Linked DNA regions of Homo sapiens. The protein of the gene in region 7 purifies or fractionates together with the protein of the main gene of each other region. This does not show direct contact. Each region holds a gene or a part of one and is shown on either strand. Other genes may lie near its edges. The genes, in order: BRMS1L, BBX, HDAC2, SAP130, MIER1, SIN3A and ARID4A.

Region 1 (4,453 bases), about 22 Mb from region 7:
CTCTCTGATAATAGCCTATGAAAATCTTCCAGGGCTCCAGTCCTGATAGAAGTTGAGAATTGTGAGGTATGTTAAGTCAGGGAACTGCCAAAGAGGAGTTGGTTCTGAATACAGGTCAGTGTGAGGTCGGTACAATAATGGAAGCTTGGGGCCACTTTCCTGGGGCTTTTTAAAGCTCTCCTGATGAGAAACAGCATAGGCGTCAGCCTGGGAAAGGGGTTATTAGTGAGCAGGATCAGTAAGTCTAGATGTGAAGACTAGAGGGATGTGGGATCTTGAGACCAAACCTATACTTATGAGTAGTATTTTTTTAAAAACCAAAGTAACTATTGAACATAGAAAACTCCACAGCCACCAAAGCAAGAGAGTTAGCCCCCTTCTTTTCCAGGTATCTTCTAGCTGTTCCATTAGGGCTTCATTTTCCATTCAGGGGAGGTTTTTGAGTGTCTTGAGAAGCTGGAGAAAAGGGAGAGAACTTTCCAAGAAAAAGAAAGAGAAATAAGAATGAGAATGGATTCATGGCAGTTTAAAGTATACTTCTGATATTTTTAGAGATGCCTTCAATGCTTCAAACATTTCAGTTTCATTGTGGCTTTTTAAAAAATAATAAAGAATGATTAGTGGATTTTTAAAAGAATTTCTGCTTGGCCTAATTTGTCAATAGGAAGAAAAGAGAATACACCAATTAAATGTTCATATCCTTAACAGCAAAAGGCTTATCACTCCAGCTCTGTATTTAGAGTCATCTTTGGTTGGGGAGATTGGATCTATTTATAGCTGCTACCACGGTCTTGTGGAGGGGAACTGCTCTCCCTTTTTCTCTGATATTTTCCGAGTTTTGCAGCACAATATAGATAAAGCTGGAATATTTCATAAGACTTTACTAAAGGCAAGGGAACAAGCAAAAGGAAGTAAGCAGAGAGAACAGCATGCAATGAAACCATGTTTGATATGAAATCTAGTTTTAGTTTTCAGCTTTGCTTTCTCCTTAGCACCTGGCTTGCCTCAAGTTTGTAAGCCATCTTTTCCCTGACACTCAGGAAACCCTTCAAGCATGTATAATTTCTAAATTTCAGACTCAAGAGAGAGGGCTTCATGATTGACACCAGGAATGCAGCCTACATGGGTGTGGCCTGTGTTTTCTACATGTAGTCATATCCAACTATATCCCAATAGCTTCCGCAAGACAGTCATATCTGCTATATCCAATTATCTAATATCCTTCACTAGAGGTAAACATGTGGCCATAGGTTTTTTTGTGTAATTGATCTTTATATATTATGTACATTTTATGGCTTTTTAAATTAGGGCTACAGTATTATATAATTAAAAACATGGACTAGAGCTAGTAGACCTGGGTTCTAGTCTATTTGCCAGTCTTGTATGTTGTAGCAATTCAATCTGTCTATGGTTTTGTAGAAAGATTTGGATATGATTAGTCTGTAATTTTATAATTTAGACTATAATTGAATTATTTTAAATAATCATAAAATTTGTACTTGAATCTTTCTCTTTGCCTATTTTAATATGATGCTGAGATATTAGTGAGGCATAATGACCCAATTATTATTCCTGTGAGAAAATATGATCCATTTTATAATGATATACTTTATAGGATAAGTTTTCCATGATGGTGACAGATGGGACCTACTTAAATTTAAAAGGGGCCATAGGGGTTTGCTATGAGTTTTTTATAAAGTAAATATTTACCTCTAAATGTACATCAGACATAATTTAGATGCTCTTATACAGAATGTAATTGCATGTAGTTAAATCTATATATAGATTCTATATTTTCTAGTTTTATTTCTTTCATGTATTTGACATTTCTTCTTTAGAATTTTTAATTGAATTGAAAAAGCAAACCAAAGCATCATATATTAAAGTACTTTAAGTTATTTGGTACTCTTAGTTAAGATACACCAATTTTTTTCTTTCTACTTAAGTATAATCTGTTTTTCTCCCCAGAGCGAAAAGCTGTTGCTATATGATACAGTCCAGAGTGAACTAGAGGAGAAGATAAGAAGGCTTGAAGAGGATAGGCACAGCATTGATATTACCTCAGGTAAGGAGAATGATATGATTGTGATGTTTGAGTGGCACCAGACCTTTGGTTTACTGTAGTGTCATATCGTATCTCAGTCTTCTAATATTAATATTATGTAAATGAAATGTCCCAGCAAAGGAGAAAAGGGGAAGAACTCTAAAGTGATGGTGATTATATTGTTATTGTTATTTGAATTCACACTTTAGAAAGATGTAAAAAATGGAGCACACGACAAGGGACGAAACAGAAGTATGACAGGAACCTACTGGCAGAATAGTGTCAGGGCTGGATGTGGTGCTGCACATCTATATCTACAGTCCCAGCTATGCAGGAGACTGAGGCGGAAGCATCCTTTGATCCCAGGAGTTCGAGATTGCAATTGCAGTGAGCCATGATGGCGCCACTGCACTCCAGACTGGGCAATCTTGTCTCCAAAAAAAAAAAGAATAGTATTGGAAATTAGCTATAGTATATGTTTTTCCTTGTAAGTCTTGAAAGACTGTTATGTGGAAGAAGGAATGAAAACCTTTTTGACATCATACAAGGTAGGACAAACTGATAGAAGTTATAGGGAGGTAGATTTTTGTTTCAGAAAAAGGAATAACTTATTAATGATTAGATCAGTCCAGTGTGAAATTGGCTTTTTCAGGGTGTTACAGAAAGGTTTTTTGCATTGAGTGGAAGGTCTACTAGGTTATCCTACAGTTCTTGAGTATATATTACTTTATCTGTTATAAAGTTTAGTTCTCTATAGGGTAGGCATGGTGGAGTCAGATAAGCTGAGCTCTAGTGCCAGTGCTCCCTCACCTACTAGTCTGGTGACCATGGACAGTTACTTCACTTTTCTAAATCAATCTCCTTGTCTGTAAAAGGAAAGTAATAAGAATACCTACCTCAGTGGTAGCTTTGGGGATTAGGTGAGACAATGCATGTAATATACATTTTACAAAGTGCATGACAATATGGTAATCAGTTCTTAGTCATGAAGTGCCAAATTGATTTTTGCTTTAATAAAGGCAGAGCAAAACTTAAACACGTAGTGCTCATGAAATTATGTACAGCTTAATCTATATATACCCAGCTGCCAATGAAGTTTTTTACGTTTTTACATGTAACTAAATAGCCACCATAAAATTAGAGTCTTTTTTCCTCCTTTGTTCACCAGAAACCCACTAATACTTAATCTTTATTTACCTGCCAGAGCTGTGGAATGATGAGCTTCAGTCAAGAAAAAAGAGGAAGGATCCTTTCAGTCCTGACAAAAAGAAGCCAGTTGTTGTTTCAGATATCCTTTTCCAAATTTTCTGTTTTTTTTTCCTTGATGTGCGTTTTTCCATTGTGCATGCCTTTATAACTTTTATTTGTAAACACTGACTTTATTTGCATGATCCTGTAATAAGCAAAAGATGATTTATTTATAAAACCGATTGAAGACAGAGGATATAGTGTATACTTTAGGTCAGGAGAGGTGGCAGAGGAGAAGAAATTCAATCATGATCTCAACTTTGAAAATTAATGTGACTTGTCGTTCACCAAGGGCTTTGATGTGAAACAGTCGTTTAGTATACAGTATGATTGTTTAATTCTCATGTGTACTTTTTTTTTCTTTTTGAGACAGGGTCTCACTGTGCCACCTAGGCTGGAGTGCAGTGGCACAATCATGGCTCACCTTAGCCTCAACCTCTCGGGCTCAGGTGATCCTCCCACCTTAGCCTCCCAAGTAGCTGGGACTACAGGCACGTGCCACTCGCCTGGCTAATTTTTGTATTTTTTGTAGAGATGGGGTTTTGCCGTGTTGCCCAGGCTGGTCTTGAACTCCTGGGCTTAAGCCTGCATTGGCCTCCCAAAGTGCTAGGATTGCAGGCATGAGCCACTGTGCCTAGCCTCGTATACTTTTTAAAAACATTTTTAAATGTTTCCAAAATTGGAGTGTAAATTAATACGTATATTCAGTTTCGGCATTCTCTATGGTACCATCCCTCTACCCCCATCTTTTCCCCTCCACCTTAAAAACCAGTGATTGTGTTAGTGATGTATATTACAATCAATGATATCATGGAATTAAGGGCATGTAGTTATGACATCAGAAGTACTAGACTGTATTTATGCTGGTACTAAGTGGTTTGAAGAATAATTTGAAGTCAGAATTTAGGATGCCAAAGCATTATGCTCATAAATCATCGTTCCATTTTCTGAAATGTAGTACTTTGGAAATATAATTCAAAGTGTGATATTCTTACAGCTAAATTGACCTTGACTATTCAACGTCCATATATAGTTTATATGCTACAAGATCTTGATATTCTTGAAGACTGGACAACAATTAGGAAGGTATGATTAATGAGCAGTGGAACACAAGTATGTTTTTATAGTCTACTTTTTAAGATTCTATGTTTTTTTTGTTAG
Region 2 (3,892 bases), on a different chromosome or scaffold from region 7:
TTTGGAATCATGAGGAGAAAATATTTAAAAAATTAAAATCTGTGAGTACCAAAAGATTCACTTTTAAAGGCTTCTCTGATAATTTTCTCAGATGAAATGTTTCTGGGATATGCATATCTTCTGGGGTACGTAAAAGGGAAAAAACAGACACAGATAAAACCAGAGTGGGAAAATGTTATTTGTTGAAGCTAGATTATGTGTATATGGGGTTCAAAATACCTCTCTACTTCTGCATATACTGTATTTGAAAATTCCTATAATTTCAAAAAGGTAAAAAGGTTTATGATAAATTATGATTCATAATTTTATCTTTAGTATAAATCCTTTTAAAATATGTATGGAATGGAGTCAGTAGTATGTTTTAGCTGACTGTTGATTAGAATCACTTAATTTTTCCTTGCAATAGGTTTTATGTTCTATTCAAAAGGATCGGTGCAATTGTGTAATACACACAGGACCATAAAACTACACTTATGTATATCCTGTCACTTTTTTCCTAACAGAATTTTAATCTTTGGTATGGACCCCATGTTCTCTCTCTCTCTCCCTCACACACACACAATCTTATTCTCAGCAATGGAAAGGAGGTGTGCTGGAATATCTCGTATAATTCATTAGACAGGCTAATTTTATAGAAAAATCTTACATAGTGCTACATATAAAAGTTATGAGTTAATGGGTGCAAATTTTTACCTATTCTGAGTTTTCCATACCATCAAATCTCCTGCAACAGCTTATCTCTACAGCATCAAAGTTTATCTTGAATAGTTATACTCATCATATCTTTTGAATGTACTTAAAAAAATGCTAACCTTACAGTTGGAATTAAAACAATACAATCAATAATTACCATTTAATGGGCATTTATGCTACAGGCCCTATGACAATATTTTCATATATACTCTCTTTTCTTCACCACAGCAATGGTATGAGGAGGTATCATCACTATCAATAAATCTGAATTAGGGAGGTTAAAAAAAACCCAATGGTACATGGGTAGAAGAACTGTCTGAATACAAAGTCTATTTGTTGATAATTAATACTGTGTGCATGCATGCGTGTAGTTTCCAAAGGATTAAAAAAAACAACTTAGGAACATTGTATTCACCAAATCTGAGGTGCGAGTTTATACTTAGGTAACACTCTTAATGAAATCGCTTCCACAGTTTTGTCCCAGTTCAGGGAAAGATGGTGTGTTCTGATCACTAGTCCCAGAAGCGCACCCCAGAAGCGTTCACCCAAGTGGCGTACTGAAGCATATCCTCTTCTTCTATTGGGCTGATCATCACTCTACACTTTTGGGAAAAGCAACCAAGGCTGTCCAGACAATGGCAAATCACAGGCAAACACAGTTTAGGGGGACACATCATTCGATGTTCTAAAATAGTTGAAATATCTTACTTTTATTAGTATTTTTCCTACTGTTTTTAGTGAAAATGGTACATTAAAGGCACATACTCTACGGCCAGTAGTGTGAACATAAAGAAATATATTTGAATAATATCTTTAAAATATTTCAAAGTTTTATTAAATATTTTTATTCAGTTTTAAGATCACAGTTAAAGTACTTTAGCATGTTATACACATGACTTACATGTGCAATTTTTAGAAATATCAAATTAGGTATAAGATTTTGAAGAAAGAAATTATATAAATGTGTATATTGACTTTTACTACACATACATCTAAGAAAGCAATAATTCTGTTGTACCATTAAGTGGAAATCATTTATTACATGGCATGTTTACACCAACTCTAAAGAGAACCAAGCCAATTTCTGAAAGCAAAAAAAAAAAATGAGCGATTCAGTCATGCTGAAACTGTCAACAGACTTTAGACCTGGTGGTCAAATGAAGCTGTGGTTAATTTATGACATGTGAGTAAGCAATTCAAACCTACGAGAAGAGTTTATAATCTGGTATGTGGAGTCTCAGGTGATTTTATTCTTTTTTCTGACAAATTCCTGAGAGCAAGAGACTTGTTTAGTGCTAATGAAATGGAGAAAACGTTGCTGAGCCAGTTGCTGAGCTCCAGATCGCAAACCTTCCCTACCCCCCGTTCCACGGCTCTTAGAGCTGAGGCACTCATGTGAGGAGTCAGGGGACATGAGCCCACCCCTCTGGTGGGCCACAGAGCGAAATCAGTGTTAATGCATGAAACATGCATGTCTCTGTGATTTAGGTTAGAGCTTGTGAGGTAAGATTTGCATTGTGGGTGGAAGAGTTTTGAGGCATTGAATTAGATCCTTGTTACTCAGTAACCACCTCTGGCCCAAGTTATCAGGAAATCTTTGGAGGGAGCAGTAATGTTCACAATAACTAGTTCTGTGCATAAAAATCGATTTAAGCACATGATCAGTTTTGACCACTGACTGCAAAAAGAAAACAGCAGCCATATAATTTTTAACCACAAGGTTTCCTCTCTCAATTTAACAGTATGAATCATACCACCATAGATCAAATTTGGCCAGAAGAGGAACCTTTTTTTTTTTTTTTTTTAAAAAAAAGATGCACATTTATATATTTGAAGGAAGGGTAGCACATACAGATGGGGATTATGAGGGAGTCAAATACATTTGTCTTTTTATTCACGCTTGTTGCTTCTTTGTTCTGAAATATAAGGAAGATAAGGTCCTCAGTGAAATGAACAAAGTTGTTTAATATAGAGTATAATAAACTTAGCTATCACTTCCAAACGAAAGTAAAGCAGTCCATCAAACCCTGAATACTTCGCCAGACACATCTGGTAAGATGAACTGAACAACAGCTTCTTTTAAAATTGTAAGTATGCTGTTAGTCAATCTAAATAAGATAATTTTTAAAAATCCAAAAACTCAAAACAAAATCCAAATCTAGTTCTTTGGGAATGCTTGTATAAACAAAAGCAACATCTAATTAACAATTAGTATACTTTTTATAAGGTGCAAAATAAGGAGCTATTTGGGAAAGCTAAGTTTTAATTTCTACCTAGCAGTCACTCTGAATACTTTATAGGTCAAATGTAACAACAGCATTTGCTTCTACTGCCCATTTTCAGCAATACATTGTTCTCTCTGGAGGAGGCAGTTTGTGAAGTCAAAACACTGCAGTGGAAAATAGTGGCACTGAAGGTAGAAGCAAAAAAAGACAAACTTTTGAAACAGGACTTACTGAAATTAACTTTTAAAGCCGAGGTAGCCCATTAGGATTGGCCTTATATGAGGGCTCTGTGGAGCAGTGCAATTGAAGGTGAATCTCCTCAACAGCATCACACCCCGCAACATCCCCTTTACAAATGATGGCTCCAGGCCTCCTGCAATTTCCTTCCTTTTCCCAGATGAAGTGGTGGGTGCTTCTCCTTTGCTGTATGGAATGCCATCCTCCAGCCTCCAGCTGCTCGTCTTCAGAACATTTACGATTCATACAGTAGTTTAGCAGGCAGCATGGTCCCACTGCTTCACATTAATGTCAAATGCCAAACTTGGAACAGAGTTTTTTGGTATTTTCCCTCCCCTCCCCACCTTATAAACAAAACATGGCATTCAGTTTTCAGCTTACTCCTGTTCTGTAGCAATTTGTAATTAGCTTGTGACTTTACATAGGTGCAAACATTTCCATACATTGAGCCAAAGACTGCAGAGTGCAAACAAAATTTTATCTGACTTACAGTAGCATCTGACTTAATAAGAAAACAAAAGGATTTGAACACATTGGATTCTAAATAACCAGACCAGTTCAGATGCTCCTTTTTGTTCATAGTGTTCCATCATTATTTTGTTTCTCCAGCAATTTTAGTGGCAGGAAGTAGAATCACAATGATAACGTGGGAATTATTTTAACATGGCTTTGGGACATGGCATCGGTAGAAAGCTCATCTGACAGAATTAAATAAATATATTTCTGATATTTGTGGG
Region 3 (4,453 bases), on a different chromosome or scaffold from region 7:
ATGGAATGAATGGTTTATTTAATATTGAAAACTTTGCTTTCATGTATGAAGAAATGGCTCAAAAACACATAATAAAAATTGGGGGAATCTCTTTTTCTTTAAAAATGCTGAAACTCTAAAGGAAAAAAGTGTGTTTTTCTAATAGGGGATGGGAATAATGTCATTACTTAAAAAGTAGCATTTTATTTCAGAGCTGAGAGGTGAAGTAGACCAAAAAAAAAGTACCAATACCAAATATGTTAGACAGTCTATACCATTACACATACTGTTATGCTACAATCTAACCATCACATTAAGTGTAATGAGAAGTTGTAAAATCAAACAGATGTTTAGTTATTTAGTTCACCCTACTTTAGATAAATGAGATGTCTTATTAATTTCCAAATATACTAAAGTTGCTAATTTTTGAAAACTTTCAATCATATATGTATATCCAGCCATACAAACTGAAACTGCTGACACCCAAATCAGGTTCTGAGACATCAGGAAGCTAAATCTCTGAAAGTGGCAAAAATGACAATATTAACAGTGTGCTCGTGAACATGACTTTATAGTGAAGTTCTTAGGCCACTAAAACCTTCCATTTCAATTATCATTTTGACAAATTGGAAAAATAAAGGCATTATCTTACTAGAAATTCTCTTGTCTGGATCTTCTCCATCTTCATCTCCACTGTCTTCATGAACAGCATCTTCTGGAATAGCTTGCATCTGGACACCAGGTGCATGAGGTAACATGCGCAAATTTTCAAACAAACGCTGTCTAAATTACACATGCAAAGTTTATTAGACAAAATTAAATTTCTTTGCAGTTCTTACATGCAAGAGAAAATATTTAGCAAAAAATTTCATCTTTGGTCTAGCTAAACCTATATATTAAAAGGTCTCTCTTTGTTGCCCAGACTAGAGTGCAGTGGCAAGATCATAGCTCACTGCAGCCTCAAACTCCTGGCAATCCTCCTGCCTCAGCCTCTGCGCGTTAGGACTACAAGTGTATGCCACCATGCCCGGCTAATTTTTAAATTTTTTGCAGACAAGGTCTCACTATATGGCCCAGGCTGGTCACAAACTACTGGTCTAAAGCTATCCTCCCACCTCGGACTTCCAAAGCATTAGGATTACAAGCATAAGCCACCTTGACTGGCCAAGGAGGCATTATTTTAGCCTGCCATTTCAATGATGAGAAAACATAAGCACAAAGGCAAGTGAACTTATCAAACATCATACAGCTTGTTTGTGGTACAGAGGTGACTCAAACCCATGCTATGTACTATAATGTCTCTACTTTGCTTGTGGAGACAAAGCCTTAACAAAATGTTCCAGACAATGAAAATAACTTATAGTGCACCTTGCAATTTTAAAATACATTTCAACTAATAAAAAAAATTATTTCCATTAACTGAAGAAATTAAATGGCTGAATACGGTGGCTCATGCCTGTAAGCTCAGCACTTCTGAGAGGCAGAGGTGACAGGATCACTTGAAGCCAGGAGTTCGAGACCAGCCTGGGCAACCAAGCAATATCCCATCCTGACAAAAAAATTAAAAATTAAAAAAAAAAAAAAAGAATAATCAGTAACTTAATGTTTCAAATCCTTTAGAAAAAAACAAAATATCTAATAAAGTTAAAAAGACCCATCATACTTGGCCCTTTAAAGCATACTAAATCTTTGTCAAGATAAAATGTTTATCAAAACAATTCAATGATTTCTTACTTTATCTTTTCCATATATTCTGGAGTGTTCTGGTTTGTCATGTTTGAAGGACTAATATGCAGTTTGAAGTCTGGTCCAAAATACTCAAAGTAATCATTATATGGCAACTCTAATGAAAACAATAAAATAAAGTTACATATTACAAGCTCAGTTTTCACAAAAAACCATGCACAGAATCCAGATTTAGGTGGTGAAATATTTCCTAAGAAAATGTTTAAAAGTGAACACAAAGTGAATGTTCTCCTATTTATAAAGAATGGCACTTACTCTAATCATTCATCCATCTATTTCTATATACAGACAGTCTCTGACTTTCAATGGCTTGACTTACAGTTTTCTGGCTTTTTTGTACCAACTTCAATGTCTTGTATTCAGTACATTACATGAAATATTCAACGTTTTATTTTTATAAAACAGGCTCAGTATTAGATTATTTTGTCCAACTGAAGCCTAACCTAACTGTTCTGAGCACGTTTAAAGTAGGCTGGGCTAAGTCATGTTTGGTAGGTTAAGTGTATTATATCCATTTTCTACTTATCATACTTTCAACTTATGATGGGTTTATCAGGACCTAATTGCAACATAATTAGAGGAGCATCTGTATTGACAGTTCATACAATAAAGATATTGTAATGAGAACACTTACCATTGGGAATCTCACAATCAAGGGCAACTGCAGTCTCATATGTCCAACATCGAGCAACATTACGGATTGTGTAGCCACCTCCTCCAAGCATCAGTAATGGTAAGTTAAAAGTTTTTACAACTTCTACACATTTAGCATGACCTAAGACAAGAAGATTTGGGTAACAACAAAATCTGCATACTGCAACAGTTCGAAAAATAAATTTTAAAAAGATAATAAGTGCAAATGTTACTCAACCAAAATGGGTTTTCTAAATATTTTAAAAACAAATAAAAATGTAAAAAATGTCAAGTCTAAAACTCCTTTCCAAACACGTTATACAATAATACATATTAAAAAATTAAGATATAACTAGCTATTTTAGCAGGTGTCCCTGATGGAAAAGTCAAGTACACAACTATATTAAGATTATAATATGAATATACACCTATTTTATTAACACAGAAAGATGTTCATGTAGGGTTACATGGTGAAATTCATCATGTTACAATAAAACATTATGTATCATCTAAATTAATTTTTATTGACTTTTCTTTCCCTATGGACATGTGTAAAATAATTATGGAAAGCTAAACAACATAGTTTAACCCTGAGTTAACTTTAGGTAGTGGTACTGAGTAGTTTTCCTAACTTAAGAGTTAAAAACATCTATTAATTTTCAAAAACTTCAACTTCTACGTGTAGAAATTTAATATTAATAGTAAACCTAACATAAAAGTAAATATTTTATGTGGATAAATGTCATAATTCAATAAACATTTATAAGTTTCCAGTAAGTTCCCTTCTCGGAATATTACCAGTTAGGCACATAACTCAATCTTTAAAGAAGAAAAGAAAATCCTTCAATTACAAAAGACATTTGTGCATACTGAAGAGTATTTGGGAAAAAATTAAAAAGGGACAATGAAAAAACTAACCACCTAAAAATGACATTATTCAAAAATCGTTTTTCTATATTTCCTTCCATTTCAGAGTTAATTTTACAAAGTTTATCTGTTCTCTTCATGTAACTGTATACTGTGGGAATTTTCATTAAGCATTCTTCAATAGTTGCAACATGTGATTTACATAATTCTAGCACTCAATTTTTATTATTGCTACTAGAAAAGTTTCTTTTAACAGATAAAAACCATTTGGATATTTTTAAAGAAAAAACAAACATACTAAAAGTTAACTTACAGGCTTCCAAGTAAAGATAGCTGGCTAAACAAAGATGTTTACTTTTCCTTCATCCCAAAACTTGACAAAAATGACTCGAAAGGGATTTTTTTAAAGGCCAAAATTTGTAAAAATGAAGAATGGGAGACAATACAAGAGGAAGAACATAGCTGATGGCAGCAAGGAGATGGAAAAGAGATAACTAACTTCAGCAGATCTGAAAAAGCTGAATCAAAGCTGGCAGCAGAGAAACTCAGAATGAAGTTTAAGACTTGGAATTACAAATATCCTTACACGCTTTATGCAACTGAAACTCTATTAGCTGAAATACAAAGTAAATTTTTTTCTAAGAGTGAACTGCTGCAGTTTATGATTATAAAAAATATTAAGTACAAAAACATTAAGGACTTTCAAGTCAAAGAGGAAAACTGATAGTTAATATACACTTTTAAGAGTACATTAGGTAGATCATTTTAGAAAGTTTATAAACATTTTGAGGCAAAAGATGGTTATTAACACATTAAGTTACAATATGAAACTGCGGTTCAACCACTGTTGACCTACAAAGGGACAATTAATTTAATATCATTCCACTTAACATAGAATAACAGATTATACCATAATTCTAATATAGCTGGTATAGTAGCAATCATAACATTAAATAAAGAAGCTTTTAATATCTGTATTTAGTTATCCAATTCCATTAAGACCAGCAATTGTTCTGGAGAAAGTTCTATTTGAGAATTCTCCACATCTTAGAGAATACAAAGCACACTGTCAACTTGCTACCTAAAAGTTCACGTGGAAAAAAACCTCTAAAATCATACACAAACACTCATGATAAAAATCATTTCTAATCTACATATACATTATAATATCTTATTAAATAAAATTTCAGATTTATTCTTACACCCTAGAAGTTCATTCCAGAATGGT
Region 4 (4,453 bases), on a different chromosome or scaffold from region 7:
TCTTTGTTCACAGCTTTAGCCCCAGGATTTAGAACACTACATAGCTCATTATAAAAAAAAAAAGCCACTCAATAAATATTTACTTAAATGAAGGAACGAAAGAAAAAAGAGTGAAGGAGGAGGATGGCAGGAAGGTTCAAACTTCATACTCCCCATGTATACCTAAGTGCTGAATCAGTAGCATGCGCCGCTGTCGTAGTGATGACTGGAGACTGAGCTCTGGTGGCTGAGACAGTTGCTACCACAGCAGGAGGGATGGCATTGGAGGTGGTCACAGGTGGCCGAGACTACCAAAAGAGAAAAAACAGTTCATTTAAAACAAAAATAAAATAGAGGAAGTCAAATACTAAATGTGTAATTTGAAACTTGAGCCTACAGATAAGCATGTTTCTGCCCAAGTAAAAATAAATTCTCACCATTCCAATTAAGGAATTCTCTTTTCAGATAGGTTGTTATAAGACCAAGAGCCAGGCCGGGCACGGTGGCTCACGCCTGTAATTCCCAGCACTTTGGGAGGCTGAGGTGGGCAGATCAACTGAGATCAGGAGTTAAAAGACCAGCCTGGCTAACACAGTAAAACCCTGTCTTGACTAAAAATACAAAAAAAATTAGCCGGGTGTGGTGGCACGCGCCTGTAATCCCAGCTACTCAGGAGGTTGAGGCAGGAGAATCGCTTGAACCTGGGAGGCAGAGGTTGCAGTGAGCCAAGACCGCACCATTGCGCTCCAGCTTGAGCAACAAGAGAGAAACTGTCTTGAAAAAATAGAAAAGAAAAAAAAAAAAGACTAAGAGTCAGAATTATTAAAAAAAAAAAATCCCTTAAGATACCACTGACAAGTGTTTTGAAAAAAAAAAAAAAATCCCATTTTGATTGAACAGTACATGAGTCCCTCCTGTACAAATGTGATTGGAGTCAAAATTCTGCCCTACTATTGGTACCAATGGGATCTCACCCTTCAATCTAGAGTTGCCACAGGTCTGTTGTTGGTCCTGGTGTAGACATTTTACGCTGCCATCCAACCCAGCACCTCCACAGAGGGCCTACTCAGCTGCTGAATAGAGCTGTTGGCTCTCAGGCCATCTACGTTAGTGAGTACAAGGGCAACTCAAGGTAACAGTATTCTTTTCTAGGTAATCGTTCAGGGTGCCCATATCCTTTCTGGATGTTTTCACATGGACAGAGTGCCCTTATCACACTTACGTGTGAAATCTTCCTCTAAAAAATAAGCTCCACACTGGGCTTCATCCACATACCCACCATTATTCTTCGAATCACCTGAGTTCTGATTCTTCCCTTGCTCTTAACCCTGAAACATGCATCTAAATGGCCGAGCTCTGCCCATTCCTCATCCTTGCTTTTCATCTACAGCCCTTTTACCTGCCGCTTCTACCATGTGCAGGTGCGTGTCTCACACTAGGGCTACAGCACCAGCTTCCTCACTCGGGAGCTCCTTGTCTTGGTTCTCGTCTTCCTCCAACCCTTCATATGTATCACATATACTACTAGAGGCCTAATACTCCTCCGACTCTGTTTTCTTGGCCAGAAAAGTATTTATCTTGAAAGCTGTAGGCTAGACAGATACTACCCAGTATCATAATCAAGACTTCCTTATTATCTTAAACCCAGTTGTTTCATACATCTGTCTGTCCCCTGAAAGTGCTTAAGGGGACAGACCTCCTGTATGTGATTCAGCTAGATTAATCTTATCTTTCTTATTTTTTGTGAGATGGAGTCTCACTCTCTCGTCCCAGCTAGAGTGCAGTGGCACGATCTTGGCTCACTGCAACCTCTGCCTCTCGGACTCAAGTGATTCTCCCACCTCAGCCTCCCAGGTAGCTGGGATTACAGGCACGCACCACCATGCCCAGCTAATTTTTTGGCATTTTAGTAGAGACAGGGTTTCACCATGTTGCCCAAGGCGGTTTCAAACTCCTGATCTCAGACAATCCGCCCGCCTTGGCCTCCCAAAATGCTGGGAATTACAGGTGTGAGCCACTGCGCCTGGCCTAATCTCATCTTTCAACAGTATTACTTTAATGATACACAGAGCCATTGTGTTAAAAAGACAAAAATGATTTTTGGCCGGGCACAGTAGCTCACGCCTGTAATCCTAGCACTTCAGGAGGCCGAGGCAGGCAGATCACTTGAGGTCAGGAGTTCGAGACCAGCCTGGCCAACAGGGTGAAATCCTGTCTCTACTAAAAGTATAAAAATTAGCCGGGCATGGTGGTGCACACCTGTAGTCCCAAGTACTTGGAAGGCTGAGGCAGGAGAATCGCTTGAACCCAGGAAGCAGAGGTTGCAGTGAGCTGGGATCGCACCACTGCACTTCAGCCTGGGCAACAGAGTGAGACTGTCTCAAAAAACAAAAACAAATAAACAAAAAAACGCAGTGGCTCTCTACTGTATATAAAGTCTAGTTTATACTCCATATCCTAGAGAACCCAATTTATAGATACTATATTTCCTGCAAATATATTATACTTCAGTAATAATGAGGTCATAGATTTCCTTAAGAAAAAGCTGAATGGCATGGACCATGTTCTTGGAATATACATAGATATACACCTAACTTTTAGGAGTCCACAGATCCCCCCAATCCAAATTAAAATCCCTCAATCCTAGCTAGCCTTTACTAACTGCTGTCTACAACCATCACTCCCTTCCTTGCCACTGTTCATTTCCCCCTTCACTTCCTCTTCACTTCTCTGATTCCTCGTTAGCACAGCCTTTCCAACAGGAAGGCTTCCCACCATCTCTCCTCTGCATTCTTACAGCTTGCCACATGACACTGTGCATCTTTCAAACTTCCCTATGTCTTGGCAACTAGATGGAAAGTCCCTGAGGTCAAGGATGTGCCTAGTGCCTGGCAGAATGAATAACTCCAATGAGGCCCTTAATGCACCCCAGGCTCCGACGTGCCTGGATTGGTTGGTGAATGATGTGCTGTACTGCTGGCTGAGCAGTAGCAGCATTTGGCAGCTGTGAGGTCGGCCTCAGGACTGTGGTTACTTTAGAACTGGACATCACAGCAGCAGCAGCTGCACCTGAAAAAAAAAAAGTGTTTATTATATTTATTCTAGTTATATTCCCTGGGAAAATAATCAGTATGTTTCCCAAAACTCAGATAGCATGTCAATATCGAGCTGAAGTATGGTATGTATACTTCCCATTTCATCACAGAGAAAACAAAGAAAATGTGTATTCAAGAGATTTAATAATAATTTATATTGCCTCTTCACAGACAACCTTAAGTGAAACTAGCTGCTGTTTTTTGTTTCTGTTAACTGCAAGTGTGCACAGTGGTAAAGCACACAGGGAACAGCAGTGTGATGCCACTGCCTCAGCTCTGACGAGGCTCGGACACTTTGCCTTCCAGTCTTTGTTCCATTAGAGCAGACGTCGACATTGCCAAAGGGACACATTATGAACCTTAACCTTAAACCTAACCCTGCACTTTTCACCCTGCAGACCCCCATAAGGGCCTGTGAACCACATTTGGAGAACTGCTGAGTTATGCTATAACCAAGCAAACCTGGTCTTGCGTTTGCTAACTTGATTTTGCCAACAATCTCCAATTGTTGTAAAGTCTCCAATAAAAGGTAAAAATTTCTAGTCAAAATTCATTTATTACCTCACAACCTATTAGAACTTAAGGGTAAAAATAAATTAATCTTAGCCATGTGGTGGCTCACACCTGTAGTCCCAGCCACTCAGGAGGCTAAAGTGGGAAGATCGCTTGTGCCCCAGAAATCTGAAACCAGCCTGGGTAACCCAGTGAGGCCCCATCTCAAAAAATAATTATCATCATCATTTTATTGTTACATAAGTTAAAAAACTGAGTAAAGATCATCACTGAACTTTAAAAATATTCAGTATTAATATTTGTGACTTATGTATTAAAAATAAAGACCATGTTGCAGATAAGCAGTCTAATAATAAAGACCATGTTGAGATTATCAAAGCTTGGGCAGTTCCTCAATATATAGGACAATTTTAGACCATATTAAACACTTTAATTGCATAAATATACACACTTGTAATACAACTATAATAAGCACATATTAAACCATGCTAAAAACATGGATTGCTCTAAGTTTATTTCTACTGTCTTGCGATTTTTTTTCTTTTTCTTGAGACAGGTTCTCGCTCTGTCACCCAGGCTGGAGTGCAGCGGCGCAATCTCAACTCATTTCAACCTCTGCCTCCCGAGCTCAAGCCATCCTCCCATCTCAGCCTCCTGAGTGCCATCCTCCCATCTCAGCCTCCTGAGTGCCATCCTCCTATCTCAGCCTCCTGAGTGCCATCCTCCCATCTCAGCCTCCTGAGTGCCATCCTCCCATCTCAGCCTCCTGAGTAGATGGGACTACAGACGCATGCCACCACACCTGGCTAATTTTTTGTATTTTTGTAGAGACAGGGTTTCGCCATGTTGCCCAGGCTGGTCTCAAA
Region 5 (4,453 bases), on a different chromosome or scaffold from region 7:
AGTGAAAGTTTCAGGAGCAAATAAGCTGTTTATATCAGTTATTTACTCTCGTTTGTTTTTATGCCTTTCATTGATATAAAATGGACTTCTAAAAACTAAATTATAAAGATTAGAGAAGGGTTAAAGTTTAGAGCACTGAAAATACGGGGAAAAAAGTAAAAAAAACTGTTGAGACATTGTAAGTCACTTTAAAATGAAAAAAAGCATTCACTTTTTCCTTTTTTGGCTAGGCTTCTATAGACCAAACTGAAAAAATTGAGTACACACATTCTTCTCACAGAAATAATGAAGGGTCCTCTTTCACAAACCAATGGGGTTACAATGGGGTTACTTAGTAGGCTGTCATGTTCTTATCACATTTTACATATAAAGTAACAGTTCATTACACTGAAAGCATAAATTCAGCTACGTAACTTTACTAATAACCCACCTTTTTCATTTTCTTTGTATCTACAAATGCCAACTGGAATTTCTGCTTGAAACATGGAGCCCACCATAATCTCCTATTTTAAAAATAACATAAAACATTAGTAAGATCTAGTAACAGATTTTATATCCATTTTCTAGCCTTACCATCTTAGTAAACTGTTCCTGGTTTCTCTGTCATAAAATACAAAAACAACCAATTAACTACCTCAGAGGTACCTTTGTGAAGATGAATGACAAATAATGACTGGATGAAAATATTAGTAATAATACTGAGGTGAAATGCAACGTAAACAATAAATACAAACTTTATTTCAAAATATAGAGACAAAGAAGTGAATTCTGATAATTCCATTAGTAAGACAACTGCAAAACATGTAAAACACAAAGTCAAATTCAGATATTTTCAGAGTATCTACACTTAAGACAGTGGTCTTAAATATGATCCCTATATGAGCAGCATCAGTGTCATCTATGAAATTTTTGTTTTTTTGAGACAGGGTCTTGCTCTGTCACCTAGGCTGGAGTGATCATGGCTCACTGCAGCCTCGACCTCCCAGGCTCAAGCAATTCTCTCACCTCAGTCTCTGAGTAGCTGGGACTACAGGCACATGCCACCACACACAGCTAATGGGAAACTGTTAGAAATGCAAATGCTCAGGTCCCACCCCAAACCTACTGAAACTCTGGGGACAGGACTCAGTCATTGGTATTTTAACAAGCTCTCTAGGTGATTCTGACATAGACTGAAGTCTGAAAAACAGAGCTTCAAAGTAGGAAAAATAACAAAAAGGGTTTGTATAAAGCTCAGTAGGGGCCAAATGAAAGAAACTCTAAATGAAATAGATAAGCAGGTTATGGCTTGACTTTCATTAAAACAATACAAAATGAAAAAGTAACCTCCTCCCACAAATATAATTAAATAGGAAATCCAGTAATCATATCTATACAGTCAAATCACAGATTAGGTGAAACTGGATGTTCTCAAAAGCAACTGCAAACTACCACTGGTGAAATTTCACAATGCAAGGAGACCAAGATTACATGAACCCTCTTTTGTGTGATGGCTAAATGTTAAGAACACATTTACTGACATTTTCAAAATTGGGCATGAAAGGTACAAAATCATGGTCTAGAAGTTTTGGTAACTCTTAGGATTTGGAAAGTCTCTCTCCTGCTATTGTTACCTCACTGATGTGAGGAGCTCATTTTATCCAGTACAACTTCAAAGACGTGCTTTATGTAATAAAGTTATTTCTATACCCATAAGAAAAACCAATCTTTCTCATGATCAGTTTTCTAAAAAGAATCAAACTTACAACAAATTTTCTCTACCCTTACAATGGAATTCTCTTTATGTCTTCTACTATAAAAAGAGTCCTTTATTGTCACATCTTGTGCCTCTTTTAACTTAACTCACCTAGGCCTACCAAAGAACATTGTCAAGTTACTAACCCTGGCTGGGGTGCTTCTAAACCATCAATGCCTGGATCCACTGCAGGACAATTAAATTAGAATCTATGAATGAAGGCCCTGGTAGTCAGTACATCTAAGTTATCCAAATGATTCTAACATAAAAACAGGGTTGAGAACATCTGGATTAGTTTAAAGATAGGTACTTCCTTTTTCCTGTTCAGTTCTGAACATTTCTTTTCATCTGTTAATTTGTTCGGTAGTACAGGGAAGGGAAGGGAAATAGCTTTGAAGATCATTATGTGTTAACATATCATATATGCAATTTTCCTTTAATCTTTCAGCAAGCCCCATAAGGCTGACATTGTTATTCCCATACTATATGTAAGAAGATGAAGCTCAAAAATTTGATTTTCTCAGGAGCACACAATTACTAAGTTCTAGAGCTACAACTAAAATTCAGGTTTGACTTCAAAACTGTTTCCCCTACCTTAAGTTTCTATAAAAACTCAATTTCATCTTATAAGTCTTAAAAAAAAATGAATCTCTGAACCTTGACAATTATTTAAAACAACAAAATCATACTGAAAGAAAACAATCTGCATTTACTCTGGCCTGCTTTATTACATAATTTTTTTCTGAGAAAGGTGTGGTTAATTAATACCCTTTCTGAGTAAGGTGTGGGTAATTAATACCCTCCAGCAATGAGAGGTGTTCTACCTCTGAGCTTTTGTTCTTTCATTTAAAAAAAAAACACTGAATGCTTAATCAAATACTCTACTGAACACTCCAGATTAAAAAACAACACATGTTGAAGATACATAAACTTGAATATGAAGTGGGACAGCAATTTATAAGGACTCCCAAGGTTTCTAGCTTTTTTCATCTTAATTTCTGCACACTGTAGGAATCAGATTAAAAACAGGATGAAAGAACCCTTGCCCAAATAGGCCACACAAATTAACTTTTGTGATTCTTGTTTTCTGTCGAGTCCCATCATTTGCTCAAATTAACACATACCGTAAACTGGGCTAACCTTGTCTCTCAACAAAAATAACATTATTTCTTTGTTTTAACCAGTTCTACATAAAAAATTTTTTTGAAGACATGGGGTCTCACTATGTTGCCCAGCCTGGTCTCAAACTCCTGGGCTGAAGTGATTCTCCCTACCTCAGCCTCCCAAGTAGCTGGGACAACAGGGGAAACATCACTGCAACCAGCTAATTCTACATAATGTTTAGATAGATTTTTCCTAAGAGCTCAGTTCTTTTACAATAACTTACAATTCTTTAACTTAACTGTATGATTAATTATATGCTATATAATTTTATAATTAAAAACTAATCTCAATATATTATCTTTAGATTCATTTCAGAAATTAATTGTATATAGTTACGAAGAAGCCAAATCTGTTTCTTCATATAATAAGCTTATCAGTTGTAAATGTCAACATTAAATTCAATCATTTGGAGAGTTTTTCTTTTATAAAGTAATACAGAATGAAAAACTTGCAATATGAACTACTAAACAAAATTTACTTAACAAATATCAAAGCCTCCACAAATGCTTTCCATAATATTGAAAAACATATACGTGATACTTTTTACAGGGCAACAAATGCCTAATTTGGCACTAGTTCAGGACTAAATCAGAAATGTGGATTTCTGTTTTATTTATTTTTTGTTTTGTTTTATAAAATGAGACAGGGTCCCGCAACGCTGCCCAGGCTGGTCTCGAACTCCTGGGCTCAAGCGATCCGCCTGCCTCAGCCTCCCAAGTGCTGGGATAACAGGCGTGAGCCACCACACCCCGCCAGAAATGTAGATTTCTAATCTAACCTAGATGTGTTAAGAAGGAATCTGAACATTTACCAAACATTTAAATGTCATAAAAGGGCTTACATCGATTTTATCAATATACATAGTTAGTAAAAAAAAAAATAATTACACGAGGCTTTTTAAAAAAATATTAATTTATCTAAATTTTGGGAAAATATTGTTCTAACTACCTTTTTCCAGTCTTCTGATGGAATATAATCTTCATCTTCTTCAGATTCTTCTTCTACTTCACTATCTAGAATAAATAAGACACCAATACTATAAAATGACTGCTTATCCTGTCTAAATCTACATATTATTTTTACATCTACCATCAAATATTTGGATATGCTCAAAGATATCTAATGAATTAAGCCAAGATATTTCTAACCAAATAATTAACACCCTATCACTTAAAAAAACAAAACCAAAAAAACCATAAACTTTCTACATAATTGTATTCTCATGAAATGATTTCCTATAAAAACTTAGGGGAAAAAACTGATTTAGAATAAAGATAATATTATCTTACTACATATTTCATGACAGTTTATTTTTCTTCAAGTGTTTTTCTTCCTTTTAAAGTAGAGAAATTTAGGTGTATTTATGAATATACCTAAAAAAGGCTAAGAGGCAAAGAAAGTAAAAAATGGAAACTAAGGGAAAGACTATGAGAAACAAAAAGATGACCATGAAACAAACATTTAAAAACAGGGCAAAGAAAAAACAAATACACCCAAAGTCAAGTAGTACATGACACAATTACCATAGTATATTCACTAACAACAGGGACCCTG
Region 6 (4,453 bases), on a different chromosome or scaffold from region 7:
AACCCGGGAGGCAGAGGTTGCAGTGAGCCGAGATCGTGCCACTGCACTCCAGCTTGGGCGACAGAGCGAGACTCGGTCTCAAAAAAACAAAAAAAAACAACAACAACAAAACACATGACCACCTCTAGAGTACCTCTCCATTAGAAATACTTGTGAGTGTCAAAATGAGCAGCTGCTGCCCATTCTCACCTTAACTGGAGGGGTGGTTCCTGTAGGATGTCTGCGGATCTGGCAGCCATTCTGGCTGGGCCTCTGCGGCTTGTTGTTCAGTTGGGGCTTCTTGACAGTGCCTCCATGATCATTTCTCACAGAATCAACCTTCTCAGCAGTTGTTTTGCTTAAAAGCTGATTAAGACACATGAATGAGATTAATGCTCTTATCAAAGCAAACAAATATCATCTAGGAAAAGTCCCCTTCTGAGCACAGTTTTCCAACTCATCTAAGATAATAATAGTAAATAGTGTAATTCTTATTAAAAAAACATACCACGGAGCTGTTGGCATCTGGTAGGAATTGTCCAAACTCTGACAACAAATCTTCCTGGTTTTTAAAGAGACGAGCAACCTGGGCATACACCTCCTGCTCTGTCAATGCTGGAGTGTAGTTTCCTCCAGCTTCCTTGGCATTTCTCTGCTCTTTCTGAGGAATTGCAAATGAAAAGAGATCATTTGGGCTACTGTTTTGAGTCACTCATCTTTGCACGCTTTCTGGAATCACTGTTATCTATTTAGGCTGCATGTAAGAAGAAAGTCTATGTTCTTAGCACCCGTTCTGACCACAGACTTTCAAGTTGAGAAAAAAAAAAAGTTGAAGATGGTGGATGACAATTCCTTTCAAAACTAGGGTAGTAAATATTTTTGAGACGGAGTTTCACTCTTGTTGCTCAGGCTGGAGTGCACTTGTCTCGGCCTCCCAAAGTACTGGGATTACAGGCGTGAGACACCATGCCCGGCCTAGGGCAATAAATATTAATGCCCAGGGGACCACTACCAACTGACAAAACCTTAGAAATTTCTCCTCCTCCTACTGTACATTAACTAGACTATATAAATCACCATCTAACTGTCCCAGATAAAACTGAGTTTCATTTCATGGGACAGTGACTAACAATCCTGACTGAGGCCGGGCACGGTGGCTCATGCCTGCAATCCCAGCACTTTGGGAGGCCATGGCGGGTGGATCACCTGAGACCAGCCTGGCCAACATGTTGAAACCCCGTCTCTACTAAAAATACAAGAAATCACTTGAACCCGGGAGGTAGAGGCTGCAGTGAGCCGACACTGCACTATTGCACTCCAGCCTAGGCAAAAAGAGCAAAACTCTGTCTCAAAAAAAAAAAAAAAAATCCTGACTGAATGTTGCAGGGCAATCAAGTCAGGCAAATAAAACTGGCTTTATAGCATGGGGGCGGTGGCTCACGCCTGCAATCCCAGCACTTTGGGAGGCCAAGGTGGGCAGATCACAAGGTCAGGAGTTCGAGACCAGCCTAGCCAACATAGTGAAATCCCATTTCTACTAACAATACAAAAAATTAGCTGGGCGTGGTGGGCGGAGCCTGTAATCCCAGCTACTAGGGAGGCTAAGGCAGGAGTATCACTTGAGCCCGGGAGGCGGAGACTGCAGTGAGCTGAGATCGTGCCACTACACTCCAGCCTGGGTGACAGTGCAAGACTCCGTCTCGAAAAACAAACAAACAAACAAACTGGCTTTAAAAACATGCATGATAGTTTCTAACTGGTTAATTTCCAGTATGAATTAATGGACACAATAATGGTTACTTGTTATTGGACTAGATGCCCTAAGAGGGTGACCTGGTTAAGACAGGCTGAATGGGCACTCCTTACCTGATATGTGTGCAAAATCTCCAGGAATGCTTTGTAGATGTCTGGTTGGCCCTGAAATCTGTTCTTGATCTTATTAACATAGTTGATGGCATGATTAAACTCCACAGGTTGATTGTTCTGCAAGGATGGGGCCGTTCCCAACGAGATTGTCACTGGTGTGTGAGGCTGGACCGGCGGAGAACGTGGGGATGCATACGGTGGAAGTGGGGGAGTCTGCTGACTGGCCGGAGTATGTGCTTGCAGTTGGGAGGGCTAGAAAGAAAAGAAATCTTTATTCTCTTCAGATGCATAGATGAGTTGATACAAGGAAAGTTCAAACTAAAGAGAAACAAGGTGTCAACGTATATCCTTTATTTACTCACTCAGGCCAGGTCATTTTAGTCCAACACAAATCATACTGGGCAGCAGTGGGAGTTGTAGGCGGTTCAAACATGCTGATACAAATATTTCAGTCTCACATTTTCTAAATAAAACCTTAAAACTGGAGCCATCTCCAATTACAGGGAAGAATTTTTCATATGCAATGTTTTAGCTTAGTAGCTCAACAAGTACACATAGAAAAAATCTCATTCTACATAGCCTTTTGATGTCAACAACAAGACAACTGTTGCAGTAGCTCCACATAAAAAAGTCTTCTACGCCAACTCTGTCCTGTAGAACTGAGATGATGGAAATGTCCTTTATTTGCACTGTCTTATACATAGCCACCAGCCACATGAGGTTACTGAGCACTTGAAAGCTAGTGCAAATGAAAAACTGAATTTAATTTAAATAGTCCTATGTGGCTAGTGGCTACTGTGTCAGACAGTGTGGTTCTAGACCAAGAACACCCCATCTTCATCACCATCACTATCACTATTCATTAGATCTTCTACTTAGCTTGATATAATCTAGTTAGTGAAATAACTTTCATAAAATAACCATGTGGGCAGCAGCACAATTTGACCAGGATAAGACGATGGTTTCTATCTGTGCTGTCAACTACTACTACACAAAGTCACCACCTGTTGGGATGTTCATGGTTTTATAAGCAGAAACTGTAAAAAGAAAGACCTTGAAAGTTGTTGCTGTGTTGATTTAAATAGATACCTAAGTAAGTGATGTGTAAATGTGAACCATGTCATAGTGAAGTTTTCATACAGCATTTTTCTATGACGAAATCTTTGTAACTTTGTTTCTCAGTATCTAAGTCTTATATAAAGGGGAAACATCAAAGGAAGGTGCTCTCTAGGGATGCATTCATATTGATGCAATATTTTCCAAGTGCTCACCTTGCTGACTTTGGCAGGTGGGGGCTGAGGAGCTGGCTGGGCAGGAGCTGGGGCTGACTGGGCTGAAGGCTGGGAAGGATGTTGGGGTGGTGGTTGAGGCTGTGGCTGGATGCCATGGGTGGGAATCTGATGAACCTGGCCAGGAGTTGTCACATTCACCATGTCATTGGTTTGCACCTCAATTTTGTAGCCAGGGGGCAAGAAGGTGTTGAATCCCATTATCAGATCGGGGTGGCCTTTGAATAGCTGGGACACACGACTAATCACTCCTGGGGTGTCGATGCTGATAAAAAACAAAAAGAAAAGTGATAAACTGTAAGCTTAACAAACACCCTGTTAAGAAAAAATTTCATGTTTTTTTTTCTTTTGAGACGGAGTCTCACTCTGTTGCCCAGGCTGGACTGCAATGGTGCAATCTTGGGGTCTTGGCTCACTGCAACCTCCACCTCCCGAGTTCAAGTGATTCTCCTGCCTCAGCCTCCCAAGTAGCTGGGATTACAGGCATGCGCCACCATACCCGGCTAATTTTTGTATTTTTAGGACAGGTGGGGTTTCACCATGTTGGCCAGGCTGGTCTCGAACTCCTGACCTCAGGTGATCCGCCCACCTTGGCCTCCCAAAGTGCTGGGATTACAGGCATGAGCCACCTCACTCAAAATTTCACTTTCTACTAGGTTTTCTCTAAACAGGAAAACAGATCATCTACGCATTTTAAAATTAACACACGAACTCTGAAATTCCAAAGCCATTTAGTTTTAGACTCAAAGATACTTGGCCACAATTTGTTTTTTTTTTTTTTGAGACAGAGTCTCATTCTGTTGCCCAGGCTGGAGTGCAGTAGCACAATCTCGGCACACTGCAGCCTCCGCCTCCTGGGTTCAAGCAATTCTCCTGCCTCAGCCTCCCAAGTAGCTGGGATTACAGGCACCCGCCACCATGCCCGGCTAATTTTTGGAATGGTCAAAATTTTTAACAGAATATATGTTCATTGTAATAATTCTACCAAGCAGATACTCAGATGATATATATAAAGCTACATATCCCAAACAAGATTCACTCTTTGATATACCAGTATACATCATTTCAGCACACATCTACATTGTTCAGATGAGTTACACTCTTACAACAGTGAACCATGCCAGAATATAAGGGTATCTAAACCAATTCAGAAACCAAGTAGCCTAAATCACTACCAGTGCTACTTCCCTGATTGAGACAAAACACTGGAAAAAATTTAGTTAAGGAAAATTTACCAATAGGGATAAAAAAGTCTAGTGGCCATAATTTCCATCAATAAAGGTATGCATAAAATAAAGGCATGATTTTGAAAATTCAGC
Region 7 (4,453 bases):
AGATATTTAAGACTTTATTATAGAATAGACTTTGTGTTAGTTGATTTTGCTCAACTCTAGGCTAATATGAGTGTTCTGAGCATGTTTAAGGTAGGCTAAGCTAAGCTGTGATGTTCAGTAGGCTAGATGTATTAAATGCATTTTTCGACAGGATATTTTCAATTTGTGATGAGTTTATCAGGACATAATGGCATCATAAGTAAAGGAGCATCTGTATAGGTAGTCATGGTACCATGTCAACTGAAATACATGCATAAAGGAACCATGTCCTTACTTTGTACATCTCCATGGTAACTGGCTTATAAAGCAAGAATATGGTTTCCAGATACATGAGTTTCTATTAATACGCTACAGTCTAAAACAAGTTTGTCCAACCTGTGGCCCACAAGCCATATGCAGCCCAGCATGGCCTGGAATGTGGCCCAACACAAATTCATAAACTTTCTTAAAACATGAGTTTTTTTTATTTTTTTGCATGGTTTTTTTTTTTTTTTTTAGCTCATCAGCTATCGTTAGTGTTATTTTATGTGTGGCCCAAGACAATTCTTCTTCCATTGTGGCCCAGAGAAGCCAAAAGATTGGACATTCCTGGTCTAAAGCAAGGACTGCCTGTTGTTTCTTTACTTAACTGTACATTTTTTAGATTTTGACTTAATTCTGTAAATACTTGTATATTTAGATAATGTAAAAACTGTTATTTAGTTCTAGAAACCTTAATTTCTTATTTGCCCCTGATTAGTCACTTGGACTATAGACAATCAAAAGTGATAGTAATCATTTGAGAAGGCCAGGTGCAATGGCTCATGCCTGTAATCCTAGCACTTTGGGAGGCTGAGGTGGGCAGATCACTTGAGCTCCGGAATTCAAGACCAGCCTGGGCAACATGGCAAAACCCGTCTCTATAAAAAATACAAAAATTAGCTTGGTGCAATGGTGTACATCCGTGGTCTCAGCTACTCAGGAGGCTGAGGTGGGAGGATCATCTGAGCCCAGGAGATCATGCCTCTGCACTCCATCCTGGGCAACAGAGTGAGACCCTCTCTAAAAAAATTGCCGGGTCCAGTGGCTCACCCCTATAATCCCAGCACTTTGGGAGACTGAGGTGAGCAGGTCACCTGAGGTCAGGAGTTCGAGACCAGCATGGCCAACATGGCGAAACCCCGTCTCTACGAAAAATAAAAAATTAGCGGGGTGTGGTGGCAGGCACCTGTAATCCCAGATATTGGGAGGCTGAGGCATGAGAATCACTTGAACCCAGGAGGCAGAGGTTCCATTGAGCCGAGATGGCACCACTGCATGTCAGCCTGGGTGACAACATTGAAACTAGCCCCCCAAAAATAAAAATAAAATTTAAAATAAATTTTAAAATAAATTTTTAAGTAAATGTTTAGGGGAAATGAGTTTTCAACTTAAGCTAAACAGAATAAACTTAGATAAAGTAGGTGAAATACAGATATCTCTAAAAAATTTCAGAATCCTAAAGGCAATGTAGTTCAGAAGATTTTATTGGAAATACTAGAGAGAGTGTTGAGGAGGAAAAGGAAGTTGAAATGGACTTGATAAAATAACTTGATAAAATAACCTGAAACTGATCACCTTGCAAATTTGAATTTATCTGACTTAGCTTTCTATTATTCATTCAATAGCACGAATTCTATTGCAGATCTGATTATAAGCTCAGGTCTGTAAAAGCTGTGGAAAACAAAACAGTTCAGATTGTCTTGAATCTAGAGTTTGCTTTCCAAGACTCTCCCTCTAAACCTGTTAACTCTTAAGAAATCCTCTTGCCTTTCCCTAGTGAGTATACAAAATACCTACTACAGTTACTGGCACATGTTACCAGCAAACCAGCCCCTGTGCCCTTCATATTCTTGCCAACACTAAGAACAAACTATTTAATCTGTCTCACTGTTGTTTTCGTTTGGTGAATACATTTCAAAAAGGTTATAATGTATAAAGTTTGTACAAACTCTTTTTTTTTTTTTTTTTTTTTAAGGTATGATGAGTGGGTGAAGGCTGACAGGATAATCTGGCCTTTGGACAAAGGTGGACCAAAGAAAAAACAGAAGAAAAAAGCTAAAGTATGTTTGTAGATTTATGTCCTTTATAATATGTATAGGAATTATCCAAATTGTATTGTGTGTTTTTTAAGACTTTAAGAACAGTTTTAGGTTTATACCAAGATTGAGAGCAAGGTATATAGACCTCCCATATACTCTCTGCCCCATGCATGCATAGCCTTCCCAGATTGTCAACATCCCCCACCAGAGTGGGATGTTTGTTACAACTGATGTGCCTACATTGACACATTATTGTCACTCAGAGTCCATCGTTTACATTAGGGTTCACTGTTGGTGTTGTATATTCTGTAGGTTTTGACAAATATATAATGACATGGATCCATCACTATAGTATCATACAGAGTAGCTTTACTGCCCTAAAAATCCTTTATGTTCTGCTTATTCTTACCCCCACCCCAGCCCCTGACAACTACAGACTTTTTCTCTCTCCATAGTTTTTGCCTTTTTGAGAATATCATATAATTGGAATCATACACCATATAGCCTTTTTAGATTGGCTTCTTTTGCTTAGTAATATGCATATACGATATTGTGTTTGTTTAATAAATCTTATTGTAATAATCATCTTGGCCGGGCATGGTGGCTCATGCCTGTAATGCCAGCACTTTGGGAGGCTGAGGCGGGCGGATCACGAGGTCAGGAGATCAAGACCATCCTGGCTAACACGGTGAAACCCCATCTCTACTAAATATAGAAAAAATTAGCCGGTCGTGGTGGCCGGCGCCTGTAGTCCCAGCTACTCGGGAGGCTGAGGCAGGAGAATGGCGTGAACCCAGGAGGCGGAGCTTGCAGTGAGCCAAGATCGCGCCACTGCGCTCCAGCCTGGGCGACAGAGCAAGACTCCGTCTCAAAAAAAAAAAAAAAAATCTTGATTCTTGACAGATAATTGTGATTTTCTCTTTATAACCCAGGAGCTTAAAACTAACACATTACCACATTGTTTCAGCAAAGGTGAAAACCAGCAACCCCTAGGGCATGACTTTCAAACTCAAATTCCTGTAGAGGCTTTATAGGAGAAGGATAAAGTAGGACGAACCGTGACAAACGAGAGGTCACATTCCTCATTTAGACGGAATGGAACTAACCACTCTGCTGTGGGAATGCAGACCCAGGGTTGCCAGATTTTAGGATTTTTCAAGACCACTATCTTTCTTAAAATGTGAAATTTGACTTTTAAATGCTAGAAGCCAATACTAAAATTTTAAAACACATATATACTGGCCAATTGTACCCTCACCCACATCCTCAGTTGTCAAGCTTTGCTGTAGAGATTTGCCCATTGTTTTGTCTACTGGATGATAGATATCTTTCCTTTCTGCAGGGGATAGTAGGGAACAGCGGGGAGTGCGGAATAGTTGTATAGTCTTCTAAAGCTCTAACTGACCATCACAATATAATTGCAGTATTACAAATTGTACAATATTGTATTTACATAAATACAAAATATGTTAGAAATTCAGCAGTGGAGGATTATATACCAATTTCCGTGACACTAATGTTAATAAGTTCTGATAACCTCTCAGACCAGCCAGAAAACTCTTCTTGATTCTTCTGTAAGCACAGACTAGGAAGTGACATATAAAATATCAAACCTTTTTTGAGATGTAGTTTTCTTTGGATAAGTAGAATGTTCATTTTTCGTAAAGCATTGGCCCTTCTCATACATTTTGTTGTTGTTGCCCAGAATAAAGAAGATAGTGAAAAGGACGAAAAGAGAGATGAGGAGAGGCAGAAGTCAAAACGGGGACGACCTCCTTTAAAATCAACCCTCTCATCAAACATGCCGTATGGCTTATCTAAGACAGCAAACAGTGAAGGAAAATCAGGTACCAGAAGTGCTCGCAGCAATATACCAGACAGCTCACCTCTGTCAAATGGAATGGAAGGTGCTCAATTTTGAGGATGGCTGACTTTAAAAAAAATCAATAACATAAATAATAAAACTTCCATTGTGTGAAATATTCACAGTACAGGTTGAGTATCCCTTGCCCAAAATGCTTGGGACTAGAAGTGTTTTTGGTTTTTGATTTTTTTTTTTTAATATTGCATATACATAATGAGATATCCTAGGGATAGGACCCAAGTCTAAACATGAAAATTAGTGTTTCTTATACACATAGCCTGAAAGTAATTTTATACCATATTTTTAATAGTTTTGTTCATGAAATAAAGATTGTGTTATTTGAACCATCAGAAATCACAGGTATAATTGTCTCAGCCACCCATGTGAACAGTCTGTGATTGTTTGGCATCACTGTTATTCTTGACTCTGAATTTATATGCCAGCTACTGATAAGCAATTTTCTTACACTTATTCACACATAATTACATAACAGTAAAACATATGACTTACAATTAATACAGTGGAAAAA

Evidence for each region.
Region 1: the proteins of ARID4A (region 7) and BRMS1L purify together in Homo sapiens (affinity purification with mass spectrometry; one large-scale study listed by BioGRID and IntAct). This does not show direct contact.
Region 2: the proteins of ARID4A (region 7) and BBX purify together in Homo sapiens (affinity purification with mass spectrometry; one large-scale study listed by BioGRID and IntAct). This does not show direct contact.
Region 3: the proteins of ARID4A (region 7) and HDAC2 purify together in Homo sapiens (affinity purification with mass spectrometry; 2 studies listed by BioGRID and IntAct, with this or other methods). This does not show direct contact.
Region 4: the proteins of ARID4A (region 7) and SAP130 purify together in Homo sapiens (affinity purification with mass spectrometry; one large-scale study listed by BioGRID and IntAct). This does not show direct contact.
Region 5: the proteins of ARID4A (region 7) and MIER1 fractionate together in Homo sapiens (co-fractionation; one large-scale study listed by BioGRID). This does not show direct contact.
Region 6: the proteins of ARID4A (region 7) and SIN3A purify together in Homo sapiens (affinity purification with western blotting; 6 studies listed by BioGRID and IntAct, with this or other methods). This does not show direct contact.

What each region holds. Positions count from the first base shown.
Region 1 is NC_000014.9:35,860,622-35,865,074, forward strand, and holds part of BRMS1L (breast cancer metastasis-suppressor 1-like protein), read left to right. Parts: intron 1-1,968; coding exon 1,969-2,065; intron 2,066-3,248; coding exon 3,249-3,332; intron 3,333-4,313; coding exon 4,314-4,378; intron 4,379-4,453. UniProt on the Homo sapiens protein: Involved in the histone deacetylase (HDAC1)-dependent transcriptional repression activity. When overexpressed in lung cancer cell line that lacks p53/TP53 expression, inhibits cell growth.
Region 2 is NC_000003.12:107,808,817-107,812,708, reverse strand, and holds the end of BBX (HMG box transcription factor BBX), read right to left. Parts: 3' UTR 1,370-3,892; downstream 1-1,369. UniProt on the Homo sapiens protein: Transcription factor that is necessary for cell cycle progression from G1 to S phase.
Region 3 is NC_000006.12:113,943,649-113,948,101, forward strand, and holds part of HDAC2 (histone deacetylase 2), read right to left. Parts: intron 2,501-4,453; coding exon 2,360-2,500; intron 1,823-2,359; coding exon 1,714-1,822; intron 763-1,713; coding exon 632-762; intron 1-631. UniProt on the Homo sapiens protein: Histone deacetylase that catalyzes the deacetylation of lysine residues on the N-terminal part of the core histones (H2A, H2B, H3 and H4).
Region 4 is NC_000002.12:128,010,107-128,014,559, forward strand, and holds part of SAP130 (histone deacetylase complex subunit SAP130), read right to left. Parts: intron 3,049-4,453; coding exon 2,924-3,048; intron 288-2,923; coding exon 163-287; intron 1-162. UniProt on the Homo sapiens protein: Acts as a transcriptional repressor. May function in the assembly and/or enzymatic activity of the mSin3A corepressor complex or in mediating interactions between the complex and other regulatory complexes.
Region 5 is NC_000001.11:66,959,138-66,963,590, reverse strand, and holds part of MIER1 (mesoderm induction early response protein 1), read right to left. Parts: intron 3,913-4,453; coding exon 3,848-3,912; intron 504-3,847; coding exon 431-503; intron 1-430. UniProt on the Homo sapiens protein: Transcriptional repressor regulating the expression of a number of genes including SP1 target genes. Probably functions through recruitment of HDAC1 a histone deacetylase involved in chromatin silencing.
Region 6 is NC_000015.10:75,409,647-75,414,099, forward strand, and holds part of SIN3A (paired amphipathic helix protein Sin3a), read right to left. Parts: intron 3,400-4,453; coding exon 3,117-3,399; intron 2,098-3,116; coding exon 1,846-2,097; intron 641-1,845; coding exon 488-640; intron 346-487; coding exon 190-345; intron 1-189. UniProt on the Homo sapiens protein: Acts as a transcriptional repressor. Corepressor for REST. Interacts with MXI1 to repress MYC responsive genes and antagonize MYC oncogenic activities. Also interacts with MXD1-MAX heterodimers to repress transcription by tethering SIN3A to DNA.
Region 7 is NC_000014.9:58,357,136-58,361,588, forward strand, and holds part of ARID4A (AT-rich interactive domain-containing protein 4A), read left to right. Parts: intron 1-1,996; coding exon 1,997-2,081; intron 2,082-3,765; coding exon 3,766-3,907; coding exon of another isoform or gene 3,908-3,967; intron 3,968-4,453.